2 separate regions of the Homo sapiens genome follow, and region 2 is linked to region 1. The links come from fine-mapping of genetic effects on gene expression. A gene starts in region 1. The other region holds a variant in brackets. All regions are shown on one strand. Distances are between the middles of the regions. Region 1 holds the start of SPATA2 (spermatogenesis associated 2). Region 2 holds the start of SNAI1 (snail family transcriptional repressor 1).

What was found. PIP is the estimated chance that this variant, and not a neighbour inherited with it, causes the effect.
Region 2: its variant is fine-mapped to the expression of SPATA2 in whole blood (INTERVAL, PIP above 0.99).

Annotation. Positions count from the first base shown.
Region 1 is chr20:49,906,658-49,920,173 of GRCh38, forward strand. SPATA2 (spermatogenesis associated 2) reads right to left here and starts at 8,872. Exons shown (of 3, transcript NM_006038.4): 1 at 8,723-8,872; 2 at 1,498-1,935; 3 at 1-188. The coding sequence starts at 1,833. LOC105372653 (a long non-coding RNA gene) reads left to right here and starts at 9,165. Exons shown (of 3, transcript NR_134564.1): 1 at 9,165-9,428. RefSeq lists enhancers at 3,255-3,549, 7,890-8,059, 8,854-8,913 and a silencer at 8,574-8,823.
Region 2 is chr20:49,976,069-49,988,328 of GRCh38, forward strand. SNAI1 (snail family transcriptional repressor 1) reads left to right here and starts at 6,912. Exons shown (of 3, transcript NM_005985.4): 1 at 6,912-7,073; 2 at 7,756-8,283; 3 at 11,804-12,260. The coding sequence starts at 6,992. The coding sequence ends at 11,988. RefSeq lists silencers at 3,086-3,145, 3,246-3,345, 6,407-6,926 and an enhancer at 5,317-6,254. The variant G/T (reference allele first, on the strand shown) is at 7,125.

The sequences.
Region 1 (13,516 bases):
TGCTCACACTCGACTTTGGCCAGAAAGAGCTCAAAGGAGACCATCTTCACCTGGAGGGTCTCCACGAGCTCTCTGAGCTTGTATGCAGTGCCCAGCTCAGGTGTGTAGCCCATGCAGCTCAGGATGGCTCGGATGTCCTCTTCCAGTAATGTCGACTTGACATAATAAACAAAAGGGCCCGTGTAGGTCTAGAAGGGAGGGAGTAGAAAAGAAAGGTGGGGTTTTCTGTCAGAGACACAAGACAGAGACTATGTCAAAGCAAAGGATGTCCAGCTCTGAAGTGGGGCGGCGGGGAGAGGGCAGGGCAGGGAAGGATCTCGACAGCCTCACCCTGCGGGAGGCAGAAGACGCAGGAGCTGGGGCTTGCTAAGCACTCAGGAATTGTGCAAGGAAATGACCCAGCAGCTCCTTTCTTTTGTTTGAGACGGAGTCTCGCTCTTTTGCCCAGGGTGGAGTGCGGTGGTGCGATCTTGGCTCACTGCAACCTCCGCCTCCTGGGTTCAAGCGATTCTCCTGCCTCAGCCTCCTGAATAGCTGGGATTACAGGCGCCCGCCAACACGCCCAGCTAATTTTTCTGTTTTTAGTAGAGATGGGGTTTCACCGTGCTGGTCAAGCTGGTCTCAAACTCCTGACCTCGTGATCCACCCGCCTCGGCCTCCCAATGTGCTGGGATTACAGGTGTGAGCCACCGCGCCTGGCAGCAGCTACTTTGTTAAACACAGGAAGCAAAACCTCTCGCTTCCTAGTGGGGCACGAAGACTCTACTCCATATGAAGAGAGAGCCTGGGCAAACATGGCTGAATAAAGGGGCCAGATTACAGGCAGAACGCGGTGACAATCAGAACGTTCCTCTCTGGTATTTCCATGAGGGGCTGAGTAACACGGCAGACTGAAGGGCCTGGCTAGGTGACAGCTCTCCTGTGCCATCCCCTCTCTTGATTACCACTCCTCCCATGGCAGAATGAAGAAGCCTGGCTAGGTGACAGCTCTCCTGTGCCATCCCCCGCGTGGTCTGATTCAGGATCCCTCTCTCAATTCCCCCTCCTCCTCTACTGTTCCCACTTAGTACAGAACACCCCTCAGCTTGCTGGGACCGCTGAGAAGCTTCCTAACTGCTCTCCCCATCCCTCCCACCTCCCCCCACCCCTCTACAGCCTACTTCCCATACCACAGCCAGAATGACCCTCTTCAGATGCAAGCCAGATCCCACACTGCCTCCTTCCCCGCCTACTCAGAACAAATCCAAGCCTTGCCCTGGGCCACAAGACCCTGCATAACCTGGCTGCCCCTGCCTTCCCAGCTTCTCTGCTTAAGGTGTGGCAGCCGGGCCAGAAACGGTTCAGAGGTGATGCTGGAGAGACGGGGAAGGTTCGGAGCCCGGAAGGATCTGAGAGCACAGGATGGATGGGATCAGACTGGCATAGCCTCTCAGGAGGGACTGCCAGGGGCAGGAAGAGAGAAGGAGGGCCTGTATGGAGGCTGCTCCAGGACCTCACCTTGATGCTTCTGAATTCCTTCTTCCACGGGTAGAGGAAGAGGTTGATGCCCACCGTCTCCAGCATGCTGAAGGCGCCGTGCAGAGCCCGCAGGCTAGAGGAGCTGAGCGAGCGCAAGGAGCTCTCCACCACCTCATAGAACTGGATCAGCCGGAATCGATAAAAGGGATCCACCTTGTGCAGGCTGAGCAGGGTTGAGGCTGCCACCCGCAGGCACTCATCGCTGCCAGGCCGCTGCCTGCTGGTGGTGGTATCCACTTTGCTCTCATGGAACTGCACGTACTTCCGAAATAAGTCATCCTTGAATTTAGTATCCATTGAACTGGGCTTCCCCATCCGATCGAGGGGGGCTACCTTATCTCCTCCATGGCTTCTGGATTAGAGGCAGGGACATCACTAAAAGCATGGACATGTTGCCGCCTGGACCAGCGGAGTGCTCTGGAAGGAGGGGAACAAGAAGCATGTCATTCCTCGATACGGTCGCGCTTCGGCTTCAGGTCGCTGAGGCAAAATGAACAGCAGAACTGGCCTGGGCTACACTGGACCCCAGCAGCACACTACAGAGCATGTACTACAAGCAGGGTTACAACAGAGGCCAGAGAGAGATGGACCTTGACTTTGTTGTGCTCACAAATGAAAAATACGATTAATATTCCTGAAAGAGAAATTCGGGTGAGTACAGCAGGAGCTCCTGTCCTGGTTTCGTTGGGGAAGGGCGAGTTTAGGAAAGCCCTCTTGAGACAGCAACAGACCTGAAGGATGAGGAGTCTGCCAGGCCAAGAGGCCGGGGAAGGAGTCGCAGTAGAGGAAGGCCCTGAGCTAATAGTACCAGAGGCTCCAGACACGTGACGAGCTTCACACACACTAACTCGCTTACTTTTTTTTTGAGATGGATCCTTGCTCTGTAGCCCAGGCTGGAGTGCAGTGGCGTGATCTCAGCTCACTGCAACCTCCGCCTCCCGGGTTCAAGCGATTCTCCTGCCTCAGCCTCCCAAGTAGCTGGGATTACAGGCACCTGCCACCACGCCTGGTTAATTTTTGTATTTTTAGTCAAGATGGGGTTTCACCATGTTGGCCAGGCTGGTCTCGAACTCCTGACCTCAAGTGATCCACCAGCCTTGGCCTCCCAAAGTGCCAGGATTACAGGTGTGAGCCCCCATACCCAGCCTCACTTTTTCTTCTTAAACAATCCTAGGAGAGAGACGCTACAGGCAGCCCCAGTGGACCATGTGCAAACTGAGACACAGACATTAGAAACTGCTCAAGGTAGGCCAGGCACAGTGGCTCACACCTGTAATTCCTGAACTTTGGGAGGCTGACGGGGGAGGATGGCTTGAGTCCAGGAGCTCGAGACCAGCCTGGGAAACACGGTGAAACCACGTCTCTACAAAAATACAAAAAAATTTTTAAGAAAAAGAAACTGTCCAAGGTTATAGAACTCTCAGGAGGCAGAGAAGCTGAGCTCAGAACCCAGGCAATCTGGCTCCAAAGTCCATGCCCTTACCCACCACACCCTGCTTTCCTGAGGCAGGAAGCCTGGAACAGTAACAGAACTGCAGCCAGTGAGGCCGAGGCCACGAGGGCAGGGGCATGAGGAGAGGCAGATGCCAGCATCAGCGGGACCCTCAGCCCCAAGGCCGCAAGAGCACATTCAGAATTCGATATTTTATACAAAGAGCCACGTGAAGCCACTGAAGAGTTTACAGCGAGGGGAGAGAGATACGGTCTTATTTACAATTTTCAAAAGAGGCCACCGTGGCTACCGGCCCCTGGAGTGCTGTTACCGGCCTTTGACAGCCTGCGGCCCCTTTATCACCAGAGCGCTTGACAGCCCCCTGTTGGGAGAGGATAGAATGTTCTGAGCTGGGACACAGGCTTTACACAATCTTGTCATCTGCTTAGCCACTTGTTAGTAGAACAGGCACAGATCCAGCAATATTCTTGTCACCACAACGCTGGGAGCGAATCCGGATTAATGGAGGGACACTGCCAGGGCCAGGGGAGACAACACGCGCAGGGTCACGGACACGGGGTCCAAGGCCAGGCACCTGCGAGTGAGGCCAGGGCTGCTTCTCCAGGTTACTTGGGCAAATTGCTCCACCTCCCTGGGTGTCGGTTTTCTCCTATAAAACGGGGTTAATAATAGCGCCTCTGTCCAGAGCTGGCGAGAGGATTATGCATGATGGAATATGAAGCTGCTCAGAGAGCCGGCTCCGGGAAGTCCTTGATGGCCATTGCTGTTGTCTGAAGGTGCTGTACCCCTAAGTGGACAGGCCTTCTCTGAGTGGGGCAAATACCTCTGACTGGGTGGTAGATGTGCATTTTCACATGCTCTGGTCCTGCTGCTCCTGCCCAGAAGCTCCGTGGGTGCAGGCCTGTGACCATCTTGCTCAGTAAGGTGACCTGTGTGCTTCATGTCTGCTGAGTGTGGGAGACAGCAAGGGGCTGAGAGAAGCTGCAGCAGGACTGGGCCTGGCATGTGGGGGACTCCTTTAGCAGACCTGTGTTCAGCTAGGAAGGTCCTACGAGCCCAGCAACTATCAGGAGGTCAACAAAATCATCCTCATCTCAAAGAGCCAGTAGTCTGGCTCCTCCACAGATTTTGTCCCCAGGAGGAGACTCCTGGGAGTACTAATGGTGCGGTGAGAGGTGGGATGTGTAGCAAAACTAGGGACACAGAGAGGCCACTGTCTCCAACACACTGCACTGCTGAGGGAGCCCAGTGCTACAGTGACAAATAAGGCTGAGGAGTACAGGAGGCAAACACATCCATTTAGGGGCCAGGTGCGGGGGCTCACGCCTGTAATCCCTAAACTTTGGAAGGCCAAGGCAGGAGGATTGCTCAAGGCCAGGAGTTCGAGACCAGCCTGGGCAACATAGCAATACCCTGTCTTTACAAAAGAAAACAAAATCCACTTGGGATAAAATTCTGCTTCAGGAAGATTCTCATCATTCAGGCCTCAGCTCAAACATCAGCCTCTAGAGGTACCACCCTATCTCACCTTCCCAGTTCCACACTGTCACATTCTCCTACGATAACCACAATCTGAAACTATCAACTTCATTCATTCATTAGCTTCCTCTCTTTGTCCACCCCTCACCCTCCCTGGTAAGCTGGTAAGCTCGTGGTAAGCTCCATAAAGGCAAGGACCATGTCTGTGTTGTTCACCACGATGCCTAACACAGAGCCTGCCTGTGCTTGATAAAGTAGGTGAAATGGATGCTGCAGCCAGGCACGGTGGCTCACGCCTGTAATCTTAGCACTTTGGGAGGCCGAGGCAGGTGGATTGCCTGAGCTCAGGAGTTCGAGACCAGCCTGGGCAACACGGTGAAACCCCGTCTCTACCAAAATTTAAAAAAAAATTAGACGGGTGTGGCAGCATGCGCCTGTAATCACAGCTACTCGGGAGGCTGAGGCAGGAGAATTGCTAGAACCCAGGAGGCGGAGGCTGCAGTGAGCCGAGATCGCCCCATTGCACTCCAGCCTGGGCAACAGAGCGAGACTCCGTCTCTAAAAAAAAAAAAAGAAAAAGAAAAAGAAAAGAGAAAAAGAGAAATGGATGCTGCAAAGGATGTCTGCATTCACGATGCCATCACTTTAGTTTCTCATTGGTACCTCCCAAGAATCCTGGGAGATCAGCTGGAGAGCAAAGAAACGGGCTCAGAAAGATGGCATGAGGTACGACAAGTAGCTCAAGGTTAGCAGATGATGGACCCGATAATCCAAGCCTGGCCTTCTGACTTGGAACCTGTATTCCTCTCACCACCCCACGATTCCCATGTCCAGCAAGCATTTCTGCAGCCCCCACCCTCTGCCTGAGCTGGACCCAGTCGGGGAATGGGGATGGGTGGGACAGGTAGAGGACAGCAATAAAGGAGACACATCCTGCCTGCAGCTCTAGCTGGAAGAGCATACCACCTAGTATCAAAGTAGGTATGTGCTCTAACTTCATACTGTTCTGTCCATAAAAAAATAAACAATTTAAAATGTATATTCTCTTAAAAAATAAAAATGCAGGCCAGGCGCGGTGGCTCACGCCTGTAATCCTACAACTCTGGGAGGCCAAGGTGGGTGGATCGCCTGAGATTGGGAGTTTGAGACTAGCCTGGCCAACATAGCGAAACCCCGCCTCTACTAAAAATACAAAAATTAGCTGGACGAACACCTGTAATCCCAGCTACTCAGGAGGCTGAGGCAGGAGAATGGCGTGAACCCAGGAGGGAGAGGTTGCAGTGAGCTGAGATCGTGCCATTGCACTCCAGCCTGGGCAACAGAGCAAAAACTCCATCTCTACATAAATAAATGTATTGCACCACTGGAGAGGATAGTCACACATGCATTTACCATTCTTGACTTATCTAAGAGAAGCTGCCATCACGCCTCTGGCCCCAGGGTCTGTTTTTTGGTAGTCTGAGAACCATTCAAACACAGAGACATTAAGCTTCCGAATACTGCTGTAATTTTTCTCCAAGGAAGTCAGCCTTGAACTCAAAGAGACTGATTTTTTACAAAGTCAGCCAGTCTCAAGCTCGGCTCAGCGTCTGCTGCTCTATAATCGCACCACAGTCCACACCCTTGTTTGTTGCTGAAAAACAATAAATAAAGGAAAGGGATCCAAACAGCCCAGCTGATGTTCAAAATACTCACAATAAGGACAGGAAGCCTATCTAAAACAAATCTCAAACCAACCTGGGTAGGTGAGGGAAAAGGCGGAAGAAAGTAAAAGCTAAAAGATAATTAAGGGCAAGACAAGCCTGGACAACATAGTTAGACTCCGTCTCTACAAAAAAAAAAAAAAAAAAAATTAGGTGGGTGTGGTGACACCCACCTGTAGTCTTAGCTACTTGGGAGTCTGAGGTGGGGGGATCCACTGAGCCCAGGAGTTTGAGGCTGCAGTGAGCTATGATGGCACCACTGCACTCCGGCCTGGGTGACAGAGCAAGACCTTGTCTCAATCAGTCAATAAGGAAAGGAAAGAAAGAGACTAACAATTACTGAGGTTCTACTATGTGCTAAGCATTGGGCTTCCCACTTTACCTACATCATCCCATTTAATCCTCACAACTCTATAAGGAAAACAGGCTCTTCCCATTAAAACAACCTGCCCAACAGAGTTTGAAAGGGTCAGAGCTGGAATCTGAACTCTTGCTGGGAGGCCCTTGATGCCTGGGCTTTCTCCAATTTACCTCACTCATTTATTGTTACATCAGTACCATTTACCAAGGGATTACTGTGTGGCATCCCTCTGCTAACTGCTCTGTGAAAACCAATGAAATCCACAGGATAGATCCAAGGTTAAAGAGGAAACTGAGGCTCGGAGAGGCCAACTCACTTACCCTAAGTCGTAAGGCTAGGAAGAAGTGGATCTGAGCTCTGAACCTAGGTCTAACGCCAAAACTCCGACTCTTGCAAAGCCATCCTGCTGCATCTGCTGGACAGCTCTACTCGAAAGTGTTTGGCTAAGTTAGAATGCCTTATGGCGGCGCGAGCAGAGTTGAGTTACAAAAATTCCTGTAGTAGCAAAATTCCCATCTTCCCACACCGAATGGGGCTAGGAGAGCTAATCTCTATATGATGTAAGCTCAAGGGCCAAGGAAAGAGGCTGGTCAGAGACATCGGCCAGTGATGAAGCAGCTGACATCATCCCTGCTGAAAACATTTTCTGAGAATACAAGATGCCTTGTAGCTGGTCATAGCTGGTGTTTTTTCTGAGCACAGAGCCAGCAATTCATTCCCAGCACTCTGCAAGAACAACAAAATACGCTCTCTGCAAAAACATCGTGGTTACAGGAGACCGAGACAGCCCAGCGACAGAAGCTGCTAATTTCTCCAAGCAACCCAAGGATTGGAACGCCAAGCCGTGCCAGTCTGGTGGAAAAAAAAAAAAAAAAAAACCCAAAAAACAAAAAAACAGCACTGTGAATATCCTGAACACAGAGACAGGCAGGTGCCCAGAGTCAACGGCTCCAGTCAGCACCTCCTGCACCCACAATCTAGGTACCTTCTTGAAAAGCAAGTCAATGGAAAAAGAGATATTGCACAGTCAGGGAGCCAGTGGCTTCTTTAGTTATTTTTTGAACATCTAAGAGGAAAGCTGTATCTGTTTAGAGTCCCACTGCATGGAAGTGAAGTGATTCCGAGTAGCTAAGCATTAGCTTGGCTTTACCTCAGCTGGCCCATTCAAGCAGAAATGTTCCCCAAGCAGCATTTGAAGGCGCCCCCTCTCTGCACAGGCAGACCTATTTTGGTCTGTGCACTGCCCCTGTCCACAGGTTTACACATCCCTGGTCTAGCTCCATCAGCCTCCAAACAGGAGACGGGGAAGTCAGTTCAACCCCCTCCACCTCCCCACCCACACCAATGCACTCGTTCCAAGCAAGAGGCTCCGAGAAACATCCAAGGCACCTTCCACTGGCTGTGAAACACCAGAAGGTCCCCACACTCCTACTAGATTCCAAAGAAATTCACACAGAGTCCTTCCAAACCTCTGAAAATAACCTCAGCGGTGCTGAAAGAAGCTTCCCTAGTGGCAGCTGCCTCTCTCGGAGAAGCTCTGAAGGAAGCTGTTTCCCTCCCTGCAGGGGACAGAAGCTGGCGGCTGCTAAGTCCCAGCTCGGTCATTCCTACAGCCTCGGGGGGCCACGTCAGTTGTGAAAAACAGCCCAGTCTCAAATTCTGGCCCCCCCTACGGCTTCGTGAATTGAATGAAGTAACAGGAACTATCACTTATTGGACGCCTGCTGTATGCCAGAGGCCCTGCATGATCTCATTCCATCTCCACTCCAGCCCTAGCAACCAGGTTCAATCACTTAAATAGGCAACTGAGGCTCTTAAGATGAAGTGACTTATCCAAGGTCACACAGTGAGTACAAACCCAGGTGTGCCGCCAGAGCCTGAACTGGGAACCCCTGCGCGGTAACTGCCTCGTGGCGAAATCGGGGTGTCCTTCTGTTTGGCCAGTCGCCGAAGAGGGGTGTTCCTCTTGGGCGGCCCTGAGCCACCCTCGGCGGGTCCCAGGAGCCTGCGAGGCAGCTCCCGGGAGAATGGGGGTCCTGAGGATAGGCTGGGGGTCCCGGGAGCGCCGAAACAGCGGGCCCACCTGTAGTCCTGCCTGCCGTGAGGGTACCCCGCTCCCGGGCCAGCCGAGCCCTGCCGCTGTCTGGCGCCCCCTCCGCCTGGGGAAGCCCCGAAGGCAGTTTCCGCCCGCGGCCGCCCGTCACTCACCCTGACACTGCCGCCGAGGACGGCCCGGCCGAGGGAAGCAAGCGAGAGGCGCGGCTGCCGCCGGAGCCGGGCCCCGTCGGGCTCTAGCCTCTCCGGCCGGCTGCAGGGGTACTGAGACCAGTACCCGGGGGCCAGCAGCGACCCGGAAACACTCGGCCCGGAAATGATGTCACCATGAGGCGGGCCCGAAGAGAGGGTGGACCACGGCTGCGCGCTGGCTCCGGGAAGCGGTCGATGCCCGCGGCCGACGGAGACTACAACCCAGAGGCGGAGGACAAAGCGGAAGGCCGAAGAGCGAGGACGAAACCGGCGGAACCGCACTTTGGAGCCTAACGAGCCATCGCTGCGTCTGAGACTGGGACCCGGAAGTAAACAGGCCGGACGTGACGCAAGCCGCTCGGCCTAGGGATGGTGGCTGGCCGGGTTGTCATGGAAACCGCTCAGGAGCAGGGAGCTGGGAGCTATGAGTGCTGACTGCGTGAACTCGGCCTCCACTTCCCGGACCTGCCACTTATCATGATCCACGAGCTGTACTCATGACTCCGCACAAGCAAGCAGGGGCTGACGGTCGGATCCCTCGCCCCCATTTTACGGACAGAAGTACCGAGGCTCAAAGAGAGCCAGTGAGATGCTGAAATCACGCGTGATTGGAATCCAGCCTTGCTAGGGCTGCGGGTGTTACGGGCCGTGGGCGGCGGTTAAGAGCGTGGGTTCTATTTTTAGTTTTGCCACTTACTAGCTGTGTGACCTTGGACAAGTTACCTAACCTCTCTGAGCCTCAGCTTTCTAACCTGTAATATTAAATAATAAAGCCAGGCGTGGTGGCACGCGACTGTAGTCCCAGCTAGTCGGGAGGCTGAGGCGAGAGGATGGCTTGCTCCCAGGTGTTCGAGACCAACCTGGGCAACATAACGAGGCCACGTCTCTTAAAAAAAAAAAAAAAAAAAAAAAAAAAAAAAAGCCGGGCACGGCGGCTCACGCCTGTAATCCCAGCACTTTCGGATAAACTATATATATATATAATCTGACATCCCCACCAGACCCTGAGCTTCTTATTCATCTATTTCCCCCCGAGCTCTGCACATGTCTGATGAGGAGGCACACAACAGATGTTCATTGATTGTAGGATTCTCACTCTGAGTCTTGGTGACCCCAGCTAAAACCGGTGGGGCTTGTGTGATGAGTCAGTGACACAATACTGGGAAACGTTTGGAGAACCAGCAATCTGCTGCTGTCCAAACAGTAGCATTACTGTGTTTACCTGTCGTTGCCTGAGCACCGCTCAAAGTCCCTGTGTTCTTTATCAGCTCATGTTTAAGCTCCTCTCTTAATTATCTGCAATGTGATGATGTTCACAGGAATTCCATCTGAGACAAACTGTCCCACCTTAAGTCTGCCTCTTACAGCAACTCAGCACTCTGGTTTGGTAGCTCTTACAATATTGCATTTTCACGTGGGGCTGCTTAAAAAAGTCCCCTCCAGCTCTGTGGGTCTATGACAGGCAAAAGAGAAACAAAGATTTTGAAGAAGGGCTTTACCAGTAGGAAACCCTGGTCATCATCTACTATCAGAAAAGACCCAAAGTCTCCAAAGACAGTCACATTTCTCAGTTTTTTTTTTTTTTTTTTTTTTTTTTGAGACGGAGTCTCGCTCTGTCACCCAGGCTGGAGTGCAGTGGCACAATCTCAGCTCACTGCAAGCTCCGCCTCCTGGGTTCACGCCATTTTCCTGCCTCAGCCTCCGGAGTAGCTGGGACTACCGGCACGCGCCAACACGCCTGGCTAATTTTTTGTATTTTTAGTAGAGATGGGGTTTCACCAAGGTGGTCAGGATGGTCTCCATCTCTTGACCTCGTGATCCGCCCACCTCGGCCTCCCAAAGTGCTGGGATTACAGGCCTGAGCCACTGTGTCCGGCCATGTTTCTCATCTTTTAAACACAGTTGAAGGCTTGTGATTTCTCTACTTGGTGATGTAGAAATGACAGGAGCGTCCTTTCCCGACTTTATTATATAATGATTACCAGATTATGTAAGGGTCACGTGACAATGATTAGGCACTTCTACTTCCGAAGAGCCAACAACACGAACAATCTACCTACCTCTTTCTATTTTTTAGTTTTTTTTTCCATCACCAAAGTAATACATGATTCCAACAATACAGAGGAGTATAGAACAAAAAGCAAAACAGAAAAGCTACCCCATGACCCAGCAATTGGATTTCTCAAAATCTGCTAGAGAAACATACACTGTGCCCAAAGAGACCTCTTGCATCATTGTTTCTAATGCAAAAGCAATAATAGGAAATATTTAAATCTCCATCACTGGGGTAATGGTATATCCATACTAACAAATACTGTGGATCACTTAAAAAGGGTGATGCATGGCCAGGCGCGGTGGCTCACGCCTGTAATCCCAGCACTTTGGGAGGCCGAGGTGGGCAAATCACGAGGTCAAGAGGCCGAGACCATCCTGGCTAACACAGTGAAACCCTGTCTCTACTAAAAATACAAAAATTAGCCGGGTGTGGTAGCAGGCGCAGTAGCGGGTGCCTGTAGTCCCAGCTACTCGGGAGGCTGAGGCAGGAGAATGGCATGAACCTGGGAGGCAGAGGTTGCAGTGAACCGAGATGGCACCACTGCACTCCAGCCTGGGCTACAGAGTGAGACTCTGTCTCAAAAAAACAAAACAAAAAAAGTCAACTGGGGACAGGAACACAGATACAGATATCTGTCTTTCATTCCACAAACACACATTTATGTGATCTGTATTAATATCTTTCTCCCCCAGAAGTCAGTGAACTCCATGAGGACAAAACTATGTCTGTTTTGTTCACAATTATATTACTACTACCTGACATATATGCACTACCTAGCATGCAATAGGTTGTTCAACATAATTTGTTTCTGACCAGAATTTTCACTGAATACCTACCATGTGCCAAGTTTGATGTCAGATTTTTTTTTTTTAATTGAGACAGGGTCTCTCACTCTGTCACCCTGTCTGGAGTGTAGTGGCATGATCATAGCTCACTGCAGCCTCAACCTCCTAGGCTCAAGCGATCCTCCCACCTTAGCCTCCTGAGTGGCGGGGACCACAGTTGCACACCACCACATCTGGCTAATTTTGTTAACTGTTTTGTAGAGGGAGGGTCTCGCAATTTTGCCAAGGCTGCTCTCAAACTCCTGGGCTCAAGTGATCCTCCCACCTTGGCTTCCCAAGGTGCTGGGATTACAGGCATGAGTCACCATGCCCACCCTGATGTTAGGTTTAAAGGGCATAACTGTGAGTGAGACAGACACAGTTCCTGCCCTCACAGAGCATCCAGTCTCCTTAACCGAAAGAGAATATTCATAACATAGGAGTAGGATTAATAAAACCCTAGAATTCAGGATAGAAGATGGTAAATGATATGAGAGGGGTATAGAGCTTAGAGCATGGAGAAGTGACCTCTGACAGGGTAAATGAAGGATAGCCTCCAGGAGGAAGTAGCATTTGAGCTGGGCTTTGAGTGACCTGGACATGTGAGGCTGTCCAGCTTTCCTTCCAGCTGGAGTAAAGGGAGCAATCAAAGGCAAGGACCTGAGATCAAAAACTCGGCTACCTGTGGCTGGGCTCAGTGGCACAAGCCTGTAATCCCAGCAATTTGGGAGGCCGAGGCAGGCGGATCTCCTGAGGCCCAGAGTTTGAGACCAGCCTGACCGATACAGTGAAACCCCATCTGTACTAAAACCACAAAAATTAGCCAGCCTGTAGTAGTGCCCACCTGTGGTCCCAGCTACTCAGGAGGCTGAGGCTGGAGAATCGCTTAAATCTGGGAGGTGGAGGTGGCAGTGAGCCAAGATCACGCTACTGCACTCTAGCCTGGGACACAGAGGGAGACCCTGTCTCAAAAAAGCAAAAACAAAAACAAAAAACAAAAACACAAACTCAGCTACCTGCAAGCACATAATGTGGGCAAATACGAGGTACTAGAGTACTATAGCCTCACACTGCGTAGGACCAGAAATGAGTAATGTAATCTAACATGGTACCCGGCTCACAGTAGGCATCCAATAAGTACTTCAGTGAGAAAACAAATATTGTTGAATTCCTTCCATGCTTCAGCTGACTTGTGGCCAAGATCCCCACTCACCAGGAATGACCAGATACTCTGATTTTTGGAGAGGAGTTAGAGATCCAGATTGTTTGTTTATTTATTTATTTAAAGATAAGGTCTTGATCTGTCATCCAGACTGGAGTACAGTGGCATGATCATGGCTCACTGCAACCTCAAACTTCTGGACTCAAGGGATCCTCCCACCCCAGCCTCCCACACAGCTGGGACTACAGGCTCATGCCATCATGCCCAGTTAATTATTTTCTGAAGACGTGGGATCTTGCTGTGTTGCCCAGGGTGGTCTCAAACTCCTAGCCTCAGGTGATCCTCCCACTTTGACCCACCAAAGTGCTGGGATTACAGGCACCAGCCACTGCGTCCAGCCTGGAATCCAGATTTTTAAATAAAATTTCTTAATTATAAACAATATTTGTAAATATACCTCCTGTTTCTACCTGTTGAGAGGGCCTAGAAGAAATGGCACACCTGTAGCAACAAGCACGTAGACTAAGACTAACCAGATCTTAGTCCATGGAACCAGGGCTTCCTGGAGAAATGGCTGATTCCCAGGGGTAGGTCAGGGAAATTACAACATGAGGTTGGAACATGTTATTGAGCCAGAAAGTAGGAAGTGCCCAAAGAATGATGGGACATGTTGAAAGCACACAAAAGCCAGGATGGAGGGTCCCTATTGGCCA
Region 2 (12,260 bases), 69 kb after region 1:
AGCTGGGATTACAGGCGCACACCACCGTGCCCAGGTAATTTTTTTATTTTTAGTAGTGACGGGGTTTTGCCATGTTGGCCAGGCTGGTCTTGAATGCCTGACCTCAGGTGCTCCACTTGCCTCATCCTCCCAAAGTGCTGGGATTACGGGCGTGAGCCACCGAGCCCGGCTTGCACCTTGCTTTTTAGCACTTAATATCTTGATATGATTTCATTACATCCAGAGCTTTTTCCTTCTTTTCGGGGCAGATGGGTAATGTATTCATTGGTCCCCGCATGGCCTCGGCCTGTATGCAGGAGCCTAGAATACAACTTTGGGATGCTATAGGGACATCCCTGAGGTGAGCCTCCTACAACGAGCCTGGCACCCAGCAGGTGCTCAGTAAATAGGAATGAAAAGGCTAGCTGTAATACTAGTACTTTGGGAGGATTAGGTGGGAGGTTTGCTTGAGCCCAGGAGTTTGAGACTAGCCCGGGCAACATAGTGAGACCCCCATCTCTAATTTTTAAAATTATAAAAAATAAATACCATTTTACAAAGGCTTGTATAGCTTATCTTGGAGCCTCCCCCCATGGGTCATGCCCAACGGACTTAGACCTTGACCCAGAAACCTCCCTTAGAAGCAATTTGTATTCTGAAATGGTGACTTCACAGAGGGCTTATTGGATAAGGCCCACGGCTGAATCACTGTTTGTTTTTAGGCAAGTGTGAGGCATAGGAAGAGGTTAAATCCAGGATGAGGATGGCAGTAGAGCATTGACTCATTCATTGAACTTTCTGTAGACAATGTCTTTCTCCTGGTCAAGATTAACTTTCCAACTCCTGATCAATTCATTCACTGATAATGAGCTAATCAACAGGGGCCACCAGTCTAATAAAGAGCTCTTAGAAATTAAGAAGTTCATTCACTGGAAGGACATGCAGGATTTTAAAAAAGGAAAGAAATCAAGTTCATCAATTTGGTGACCAAAGGACATGAAGCAATAGTTCAGAGCACAGAGAAACAGAAATGGCTTTGGTGTATGTAAAAAATGCTCCACACTGCCGGGCGTGGTGGCTCACGGCTGAGTGCGGTGGCTCATGCCTGTAATCCCAGCACTTTGGGAGGCCGAGGCAGGTGGATCACCTGAGGTTGGCAGTTTGAGACCAGCCTGACCAATATGGAGAAACCTCAGCTCTACTAAAAATACAAAATTAGGTGGGTGTGGTGGCACATGCCTGTAATCCCAGCTACATGGGAGGGTGAGGCAGGAGAATCACTTGAACGTGGGAGGCGGAGGTTGTGGTGAGCCGAGATCACACCATTGCACTCCAGCCTGGGCAACAACAGTGAAACTCTGTCGCAAAAAAAAAAAAAAATGCTCCACCCTAGTCATGTGAAATGCAAATGACAACAGGAGATCCCATTTTCCCTTATCAGACAGGCAAAGATAAAAAAGTTAAAGGCCAGCAAGGTGGCTCATGACTGTAATCCCAGTACTTTGGGAGGCCGAGGCAGGTGAATCACTTAAGCCAAGGAGTTTGAGACCAGCCTAGACAACATGGCAAAACCTCGGCTCTACAAAAAAAAAAAAAAAAAAAAAAAGCAAAAGACAATTAGCCAGATGTGATGCCTCGCACCTATAGTCCCAGCTACTCTGGAGGCTGAGGTGGGAGGATCACTTGAGCCTGGGAGGCGGTGGTTGCAGTGAGCAGGGATTATGCCATGGCACTCCAGCCTGGGTGACAGAGTGAGACTGTCTCAAAAAATAAAAAATAGACAGGGTCAGGTGTGGTGGCTCATGCCTGTAGCCCTGTAGTCCTAGCTGCTCAGGAGGCTGAGGTAGGAGAATCACTTGAGCCCAGGAGATGGAGGCTGCAGTGAGTTATGATCATGCCACTGCACTCCAGCCTGGGCAACATAGCGAGACCCTGTCTCAAAAAAGAAAAACAAAAAGACAATACTCTGTGTTGGGCAACTTTTGAAAAGGGGCCCTCAACTCCCTGCTAGTGGGAGTATAGTTCAGTTTCATCTTTTTGGATGGCATTTGGACAAATGTATCAACATTTTATATAACATACCATTTGATGTGAAGTGCAATGATGTGTGTAGAGGGCATTCATTGAAATTGCCACATTATTTGTAGTAGCCAATAAATTGCAATCTAACCTAAATGCCCATCATGAGTCTTCGTGTTAGGTAAATTGTGTGATTGTGCTATAATCCATACAATGAATAGTCCGCATCCCTGCAGAAAACTAAGGGAGCTGCGTGTAATGATATGGAATGATTTTCAAAACACTGAATATTGTTATAGCATTACCCATGTGATGACGATTCAAAACAAAAAAATGTTACTATAGCAAGGTGTAGGTTAGTGTGGAGGTTCCTATTTGTAATACATAAAGGGCTGTACATATATACATATATATATATATATATATATATATATATATATATATATATAGTTAAAGACAGGATCTCACTCTGTTGCCCAAGCTGGAGTGCAGTGGTATGATCTTGGCTCATGGACGCCTCTACCTCCCAGGCTCAAGTGATCCTCCCACCTCAGCCTCCCGAGTAGCTGGGACAACAGGCATGTAACCTGCCTATTTTTTGTTTTGTTTTGTTTTGTTTTTTTGAGACAGGGTCTTGCTATATTGCCCGGGCTTGTCTCAAACTTCTGGGCTCAAGCGATCCTCCCACCTTGACCTCCCAAAGCTCTGGGATTACAGGTGTGAGCCACCACGCACTGCCCATGCACATATTAATATATACATAGGCCATCCCTGGAAGGTCATACAAGACACTGGTTTAAAAAAAAAAAAAGGTTGCTTTGGGGAGGGAAAAGGAGGTCTGGAATGGAGGGAGACTCTTCTTTTAGTTGGGTAACTGTAAATCACATTATTTAGCTACTGGTTTTACTTCTAGTGGGAGATTGGCACCTGCAGAAAATGCAGGTGTCTATTCAAATGTACCTTCCTTCCAGAAGCCTTTCGTGAGCACACTAGGTATTCCCAGATTGCCCTCCCGGCAGTTATACCAGCCTTCACCTCCCTGAAAAGCACGTGCCCCCTGCACCCCGCGACGATTGCAGGGAGGCGCCTTGGCCAGCAGAGGGCGCCAGAGGACCGCGCCCCAGGCCTGGGGCGGGACCCCCTCGTGCGGGGAGCTGGGGAGGGCCTGGCCCTGCCGGGTCCCAGGCCACCTGGGCCGCAGATGTCGCCCATTTCCGGGAGGACCTGACCCCACAGTATCAAAAGTGTCACCTCACCTTCCCCTGCAAAGGGAGCTGGGTCTGCGGCCGAGAGGCCTGGCCCGAAGCCTCCTCTCACCTCGTGGTCTCCGCCGCCTGCAGGAGGGAGTGGAGCGAGGGCGGGCCTGGAGGGGGTGGCGGGGACAATTCGATCCGATCTGAGCAAGGCCCCTCCCCTCTGCGTTGCCTCCCACCCCCATGCCCCGCGCAGGTGCCTGACCACTGAAGGAAAGTGGAAAGCGGGAGGCCCAGGCAGTGGCTGCCTGCAAGTACTTGATTGAGCCCCCATTATGTGCTTTGAAGAAAACAGAATAAGACAATGAGAGAGAAAGGTGGGCTGGGCGCGGTGGCTCACTCCTGTAATCCCACCAAGTTGGGAGGCTAAAGTGGGAGGATCAATTGAGCCGCAGAGTTTGAGACCAGCCTGGGCAACATAGTGGGACCCCATTTCTACAAAAAATAAATTAGCCAGGCATGGTAGCGCGTCTCAGTGAAAAAAGGGGGAAAAAAAGAAAAAAGAAGGTGGGTGCTGGGGCAAGGGTGGGTCCTACTTTGGCTAGGGTGATCAGGGAAGGCTCCCCTGAGGAAGTGACTTACATTTTTTGTGTTAAATATATTATTCATACCTAAAAGTGTTTAAATTGTCTCTGTACACTACCATGTCATGAAGATACGGTAAAATAAATAGTCCATGTACAGTAGAAAGACTAACAATAAAGATCCCTCCCTGCCTAGGAAACAGATCATTACCAAAATTCTAGAAGCTTCATGTGCAGCCTGTTCTTGCCTCCCCTCCTCACCAGCCACTCTTCAGAATTTTGTATCAAACATCTCCTTGCAGCCGGCATAGTGGCTCACCCCTGTAATCCCAGCACTTTGGCAGGCTGAGCTCAGGAGTTCCAGGCGGCAGTGAGCCGTGATTGTGCCACTGCACTCCAGCCTGGGTGACAGAGCAAGACCCCGTCTCAAAAACAAAACAAAAAACCACTTCCTTGCTTTTCTTTCTAATTCTACAACCCCCACATACATCCCTAAATAATATAGGGTTTCATTTGCCTGCTTCAGAACCTCGTATAAATCCAAATAACTATGCATTTGTTTGTGACCTCTGCTCGACATTGTGTTTTTGAGATTCATCCCTGTTGCTGCATGGAGTTGTAGTTCATTTTTATTGCTGTATAGTATTCTATTACAGGATTGCACCAGGGTTCATTAATCCAGTCTACTGTTTATAAACATTTGTGTTGTATCCAGTTTTGTTTTAGTTTTTGCTTTTTTTGCTATTAGGAACGAGGGTACAATGAATATCCTTTTTTGTTTTTTCGGGGTTTGGGCTGGACAACAGTTCTTTACTTTGCTTGGTTGCTCATTATAATCCCCAGGGGAGTTTTTTAAAATGCTGATGCCAGAGGCCCCACCCAGACTAATTAAATCAAGATGTGGGTGGGGGTGGGGTGGGCCGAGGCTTAGGTGTTTTAATCCTTCCCTGTGGGGATCTAATGTGCTGCCAGAGCTGAGAACCCCTGGGATGCAGTTGGTTTGAGGACAGACTTGTCAGCTGCAGCCCCTGGGATGCAGTTGGCTTGAGGACAGACAGGGAGAGGAGTCACCTGTTGCTAGCTGATGCCAAACTTTTCCAAAGTGACTATGCCCACCGACCCTCTCGCCAGCTCTCACCTCCTCATCAACTCTTGATAGTGACCAAATTTTTCCTTGTTGTCCTTCTGATGGGCGTGAAATGGCAGCTCACTGTGGCTTGAATTTGCCATTTCTCTCTTCACTAAACGAGGCTGAGCAGTTAGTGAAGTTGCTGCTGAAACAAAGAATGAAAGGAAGCCAGCGTGAAGATCTAGGAGCAAGAGACGTAGGGGAGAGGAGGAAGAGCAGCAGGTGCCAAGGTGGGAAAGGTCTGGGATGTTGGAGGAACAGAAGGAAGGCTGGGGGTGGGATCCTTGTGCATGGGGGAGGGAGAGAGGCTCAAGCCAATGTCAGCTGGGGTCAGAGCAGCGGGGCCGAGTTGGCTGAGGAGAGGACTTTGGCTTTTACTCTGAGACAGGCGCATGGGAGGGTTTGAGCAGAGGAGGGGGTGATCTGGCCTCACTTTGGCTTCAAGCAAAGGATCCTGATTGGAGCTAAATTGACACGGGACGGGGAGTATTCCGCTTAATGACTGCTTACTGCCTCTGTCCCCCACCCTACTGCCCGCTCTCCAGCTAGAACCAGGGGAGGACGATTTTGTTCACGGCTGTCACACCCGGCACCAAGTGACTAAACAGACAGTAGTTCTGCCCTTCAGGTTGGTGGTGGTGGTGGTGTGGGGTGCTTATAGGTTTTTATAGTCTTCCTTCACAGGTGGAAACAAGAACGGTGAGACCTGTGAGGTTTATTTCAGAGCCACCCCCGGGCCTGGTACGCCTCCCAGGGAAGCTGGGGTGGGGGTGCAGCTGCCCCTCACTTGGGCCCACCCCACATGCATTCAGTCAGGGCCCCTATGGAGCCGTGTTACAGCCTTTAGACACAGGATCGAGGATCTTCACGGGGTGAGGAGACACGCCCGGCCCATGCCTTCTTTCTCCCGCCAGCCTACAGGGATCTTTTTCAACGAAACTCTAACCAGGTCCCTCCTCAGCTGAAAATCCTTCGGTGGCTCCCCAGTGCCCTTGAGGCAAAGTCCAAACTCCTACGAGGCCCTGGGGCCCAGCACATCTGACCCCTCCGGGCATGCCCATCCCACCCCATCCCTGGAAGCTGCTCTCTAGGAGTTACTCTGAAGCAGTTGCCACTTCTTCCCTCGGGCCTTTTCCCTTGATAATTCTTCACTTCCTCTGGGAAGTCACCCCGACCCCCTGTCAGGTGACCCGCCTCTTAACGGTCGCCGCGTCCCGTCTCTCCCCCACCAAAGCACACTTCCCTTTGCATTGTAATTATCTGTTTACTTCGTCTGTCTCCCTCACTGGACCAGAAGCTACCCTTCGGGAGAGGCTCTGAGTGTTCTGTCCGGGGCTGTGCCCTGGCCCCAGGTACAGTGCCCCACACGTGCTGGGCGCTCCGTAAACACTGGATAAGGGAAGGAACGGGTGCTCTTGGCTAGCTGGGCCAGGCTGCTTTGCAAAAAGGCCGTGGCATTTCAAGCCGCCGAGAGCCACGTGCGGTGTCCCTTTCCTCGCTTCCTCCCCAGTGATGTGCGTTTCCCTCGTCAATGCCACGCTCTCCAGGCGCCAGCCGGGCGGAGGAAATTTCCGCCCCCTCCCAAGCCCGAGGCGGGGGCGGGCGTCGGAAGGTCAGGTGTCCCGGCCGGCGCGCAGCGCCAGGGGGCGTCAGAAGCGCTCAGACCACCGGGCGCTGAGCCGGTGGGCGCGCGGCGTCCTGCCGGGGTCCCACCTCGCAGAGGCCTCGCTTCGCTCGACGTCCCGCCCCGGACAGCCCCAGCACCGGGGACGACCCGCGCTGCGCCAGCGAACCCCGCCTCGGAGGAGTCCCCGCCCGGGCTCTCACCGCCACGCGGCGCGAGCCCGGCCAGCAGCCGGCGCACCTGCTCGGGGAGTGGCCTTCGGCGGAGACGAGCCTCCGATTGGCGCGGAGGTGACAAAGGGGCGTGGCAGATAAGGCCCCGCCCCTCCCACCCCCCACCACCCCCCCGGAGTACTTAAGGGAGTTGGCGGCGCTGCTGCATTCATTGCGCCGCGGCACGGCCTAGCGAGTGGTTCTTCTGCGCTACTGCTGCGCGAATCGGCGACCCCAGTGCCTCGACCACTATGCCGCGCTCTTTCCTCGTCAGGAAGCCCTCCGACCCCAATCGGAAGCCTAACTACAGCGAGCTGCAGGACTCTAATCCAGGTGCGTTGGAGGGGTTCTGGGCTCCAGGAGGTTTGGGGGAGACAGGCGAAG[G/T]CTGCGTGGGGGGCACCTGAGGGAGGCGGCCTGCCTGAGCCAGGATCGAGTCACAGGATGTTTTGTGGACCATTGCGGGCTCGGGAGACCGGGCAAGTGGGTCCCCAGTTCCGGGGATCTGTCTGGGTGGTTGGGGGAGTGCCGTGTAGAGGGCAGGGGTCTTCAGCTTGGGGGGCCTTTGTAGCCGGCGAGAGGCGGAGGAGCTCCGCAAGAGGGGAAGGAGAGGAGGCCTGTGTCAGGAGGGCCCTCTGGACGCTGCTGGGGAGAGTCCGGAGTCCAGAGGGTTGAGGGGAGGGGTGGGGAGACGAGATGTGTGTGAGGAGGGGGATTGGGGCAGGGTGGTGGCTCCGGGGCTGGGATGATGGGGTTCTGGCCTCAGGCTGGAGACTGGGGACTTAGGAGAGGGAGATCAGGAAATGACCTCCTTCAACTGGGGGTCCTACGTGTGAGAGACTCAGATTGGGTGACCTGGGCGAGGAGGGCAGGAACCTGGTCTGTCCTGTGGATAATTTTTTTGATCTAATTATGTATTGAGAATCGGCCCCACCCAGCCCCTGGCCAGCGGTGGGCTCATGTTTGTTGATTGAGTGAATGATTTAATTAACGCCTGACTCTGCTTTTTCTCCCTCAGAGTTTACCTTCCAGCAGCCCTACGACCAGGCCCACCTGCTGGCAGCCATCCCACCTCCGGAGATCCTCAACCCCACCGCCTCGCTGCCAATGCTCATCTGGGACTCTGTCCTGGCGCCCCAAGCCCAGCCAATTGCCTGGGCCTCCCTTCGGCTCCAGGAGAGTCCCAGGGTGGCAGAGCTGACCTCCCTGTCAGATGAGGACAGTGGGAAAGGCTCCCAGCCCCCCAGCCCACCCTCACCGGCTCCTTCGTCCTTCTCCTCTACTTCAGTCTCTTCCTTGGAGGCCGAGGCCTATGCTGCCTTCCCAGGCTTGGGCCAAGTGCCCAAGCAGCTGGCCCAGCTCTCTGAGGCCAAGGATCTCCAGGCTCGAAAGGCCTTCAACTGCAAATACTGCAACAAGGAATACCTCAGCCTGGGTGCCCTCAAGATGCACATCCGAAGCCACACGCTGCCCTGCGTCTGCGGAACCTGCGGGAAGGCCTTCTCTAGGCCCTGGCTGCTACAAGGCCATGTCCGGACCCACACTGGTACGTGCCCCTCCAGGCGCCCCCACCGTTGCTCTCTCTGGCAGCTTTTGTGAATCTGGGCTTGCTGTTCTCATTCCCAAAGCTGTGGACACTGAGGCCCCGAGTCTTCTAACTTCTAGCTCAAGTTCCAGGGCCTGGCTCTCTGGAAACGTTTGGCAGAAACTTTCTTCATCAGCTAAGCAGATGGGCAAAGCAGACACCTTCCCAATCCCCTGCAGCCTGTTTCTCAGCCAAATGGGTCGGAGCTGGATATGGGAAAGGTGCAACCAACACCTTGCTGTGGGGGCCAGGTGTGAAGGGGCCCACCCGGCCACACCCTCTCCCGGGTCCGCCCCCTCCCTAGCCAGACAGGATGTTGTCAGACCCCCCGCCTGGCTCTGAATCCTTCTTTGAGAACTTTCTCAAAACTTAGGCTGATGTTTCTCTTCTGTGAGCCTCATTTTCTCTATCTTTCAGATGGGCATGAGAACAGCTTTTGGGGTTTCTATACAGGCTAAATGCAGGAATGCATATGGGAAGCACCTGGCAAAGTGCCGGTACCTGCTAAACTCTCACAAAAATGGTTCCTTGGCATTTGCTCTGCTTCCTTGCTGTGTGACTTTGGGCAAGCAACTTAACCTCTCTGAGCCTTAGGGGAAAACTATGATAGCATATGTTTTAGAGAGTGGCTGTAAAGGTGGCTAATCACTTTATAGTAATTTATTATACCCGAACGGTTCTCAGGTCGGCTTCCCCACCCCCACTGAATCCTAGCACACAGACCAGGAAACGGCATCTTTGGGGCAGAAAACACAATCACGTCTTTTGAAAATTTACTAAATGTGTAAAAAACTTTCTGGACATGGAGAAAAGGTAGAACTTTTTAGAACTTGAATGGTGGCAGCCACTGTGCCTGGAGCTGCTCTTTGGAGAGTGACAGTTGAGGGAGAAGATTCCACAGGGTTCAAGCTGGCCAGGTTCTGCCATTTCCTGGCCTGGCGCCTGACCTCTGAGCGGTGAGGGTTAGTGAGGTGTCTGGGAGGACTGGCAATTCGCGGGCTTTATTGGCATCTTATTCGACTAAGGCTACCCATTTCTCTTCCTTCGTGCACCAATTGCTCTGATTTTAACATGTAAAGGTCCAACTGCCTGGCCTCCTGGGTGCCTGCCCAGCTCACAGGGCTCTATTTTGGGACAGTTGAACCCCTCAGGGTGCTGCAGTCCTGCCTGCCTCTCTCACCTCCCATCTGGACATTATTTTAATGTAAAGGCATGGCTGAGACACAGAAATCCCCTTGAAATGTATCATTGCGGTCCTCATTGACTCCCATTGTGTGCCTTAATGGTGGGCCCAGTGGGTGGGGGCTGGGAGGGGTGGAGCAGGTGCATGGGGCAGCGGTGCCCAGCACCTGTTCCAGTCACAGCTGCTGGCCCACTGCATGGCAGGCCCCTTTAATCCGGGGATATCGCATGTACAGTGCCCCCCTCGGCGCCCTTTGTCCCCGCCGGCCTGGTGCCGATTTCACACTTGCCAGGAGTACCATGAAGGCGTCTGGGGGGCGAGGGATCCAAGGAGTGGGGGTCTGTGCCTCCTGCGTGTGCACACAGCCCCCGCCCCCAGCCCATCATGTCCTAGAATGTCTCCTTCCCCTTTTGTTTGGGTTCAGGTCTCATCACACTTTGGGCACTTACTGTACAGGAGGGTAGTGCTCAGGACTTCACCAACAGCCCTGGGAAGGGAAGGGAGGTGCTGTCCTAACTCTGGTCTTACAAATGGACTCCAGCCCCTTTTCCAGATCTCCAGAGTCAGCCCTTAGTTCACAAGGGTGAACTTACCCTTCTCATTCACATGAAGACTTAGAATGCAATCAACAAACCCTTCAGGCGTGGCGTGTGGAGGCTGCTGAGTAATGGCAGAGTGGAGTAGTGCTCAGGCACCCCTCCCCCAATCCTCTATGTCCCCCACCCTTTGGAGTGGCGAGTTTCCATTTCTGCCCCATGAGACTGAGTCCAGCTCTCAGGCGCTCCATAAGTCCCTATTGAATGCATGGGTCCCATTGGAGCCATCCTCTGGACTCTCTCCTACCCTGGTAGCTCAGTGTGGCACCCTAGGCACCCAGGAGGTGATGGAATGAATTCACTCTCAGCTCTTAAATTCCATCCAGCGCTGGGATTTCACAGGCGGGCCCTGACCTTGCGGGCATATCAGACTGGGCGTGAGGGGATTGGAGAATTGCATGTTTTTTAAAAAGACTATTCAGTATTATGGAATAGTGTCTAGCACTTAGTAGGAGCTCAGTAGATTAAAAAAAAAATTATAGACAGGGTCTTGCTTTATCGCCTAGGCTTGTCTCAAACTCCTGGCTTCAAGCAATCCTGCCTCACTCGGCCTCCCAGAGTGATGGGATTACAAGCGTGAGCCACCACACCCAGCCTCAATAGATTTTTGTTTAATGGGTTACTGTTATGACCTTTTATTTGGAAAATGCTGCATCCCCCAGAAAAAAACAAATCAACATTATTGGTGTTTTTGGAACTATATAGCTTTTTGGTTGGAGCAGGGATTGTTATGAGGCATGAGTGAGGGGGCAGACTCCTCTGAGGCCTCTTTAATTTTTAAAACAGACTTATTTATTCTCTAAGGGCTTGTTGAGGATTTACTGGGCACCCAGCTCCATGTGCAAGACTTTTCCCAACACAGCCTTGGCCAGGCAGATGGTGTGTCAGGGCCACAGGTTTCCGTAGCCTCTTGGGTGATAGAAAGGGGCCCAGGCCCTGGGCTGGGGCTCAGAAGGGACTCAAAGGAGGCCCTTGCCCTTATGGGACTCAGCCTGATTGGAGAACAGACAAGGAGATTTGGGATTACAGCGCAGGAGGTGGGGTGGTGAGGAAAGCAGGCTGCTGGCCGGGCCCCAGGAGTGGCCTAACCAGCTTGGAGGTGGGGGTGGGGAAGCCTCTTAAGGCTGACTCTGGCTTTGGCCCCCAACAGAGTAAATCAAGGAATGACTCCAGGACTGATGGTAAGGACACCAGTCACGTCCTCCCTTGACTGAAGGCAGTAAGGGCAGTAGGTGAAATCAGAGGCTTTGGGGTCCTGCCAGGGGAACCTGAACATGCTACTTCTGGGCCTCAGTTTCACTGTCTCTGAAATGAGACCACAGTAGGATCAAGTGACAGTAGGATGAATCAGTAAAGGTGTTGAGTCATTGTTGACCACTTCGCACGTCCCTGCGGGATGTGGATGAGTACCCTACCTTCTGTCACTTATCAACCCCTATGAGTGGGGGGTGAATAGCCCCATTTTACAGGTGGGAAAATGGAGGCTCAGAGAAGCCAGACAACTTGCTCAGAGTTGCACAGTGGGAAGCAGCAGAGCTCCGTCAGGTCCCGGCCTTTGGACCCTGGCTGTGTGTTTGACGGAGGCCTGGCTTTCCTGGGATCATGGGATTCTTTCAGGGTTTGGGGTATGCGGGGAGGGATTCCCATCACTGCCAGCCGTTGTCCCACGGCTCACTCGGCCTTTCTGGCGTTCTCTCCCCAGGCGAGAAGCCCTTCTCCTGTCCCCACTGCAGCCGTGCCTTCGCTGACCGCTCCAACCTGCGGGCCCACCTCCAGACCCACTCAGATGTCAAGAAGTACCAGTGCCAGGCGTGTGCTCGGACCTTCTCCCGAATGTCCCTGCTCCACAAGCACCAAGAGTCCGGCTGCTCAGGATGTCCCCGCTGACCCTCGAGGCTCCCTCTTCCTCTCCATACCTGCCCCTGCCTGACAGCCTTCCCCAGCTCCAGCAGGAAGGACCCCACATCCTTCTCACTGCCATGGAATTCCCTCCTGAGTGCCCCACTTCTGGCCACATCAGCCCCACAGGACTTTGATGAAGACCATTTTCTGGTTCTGTGTCCTCTGCCTGGGCTCTGGAAGAGGCCTTCCCATGGCCATTTCTGTGGAGGGAGGGCAGCTGGCCCCCAGCCCTGGGGGATTCCTGAGCTGGCCTGTCT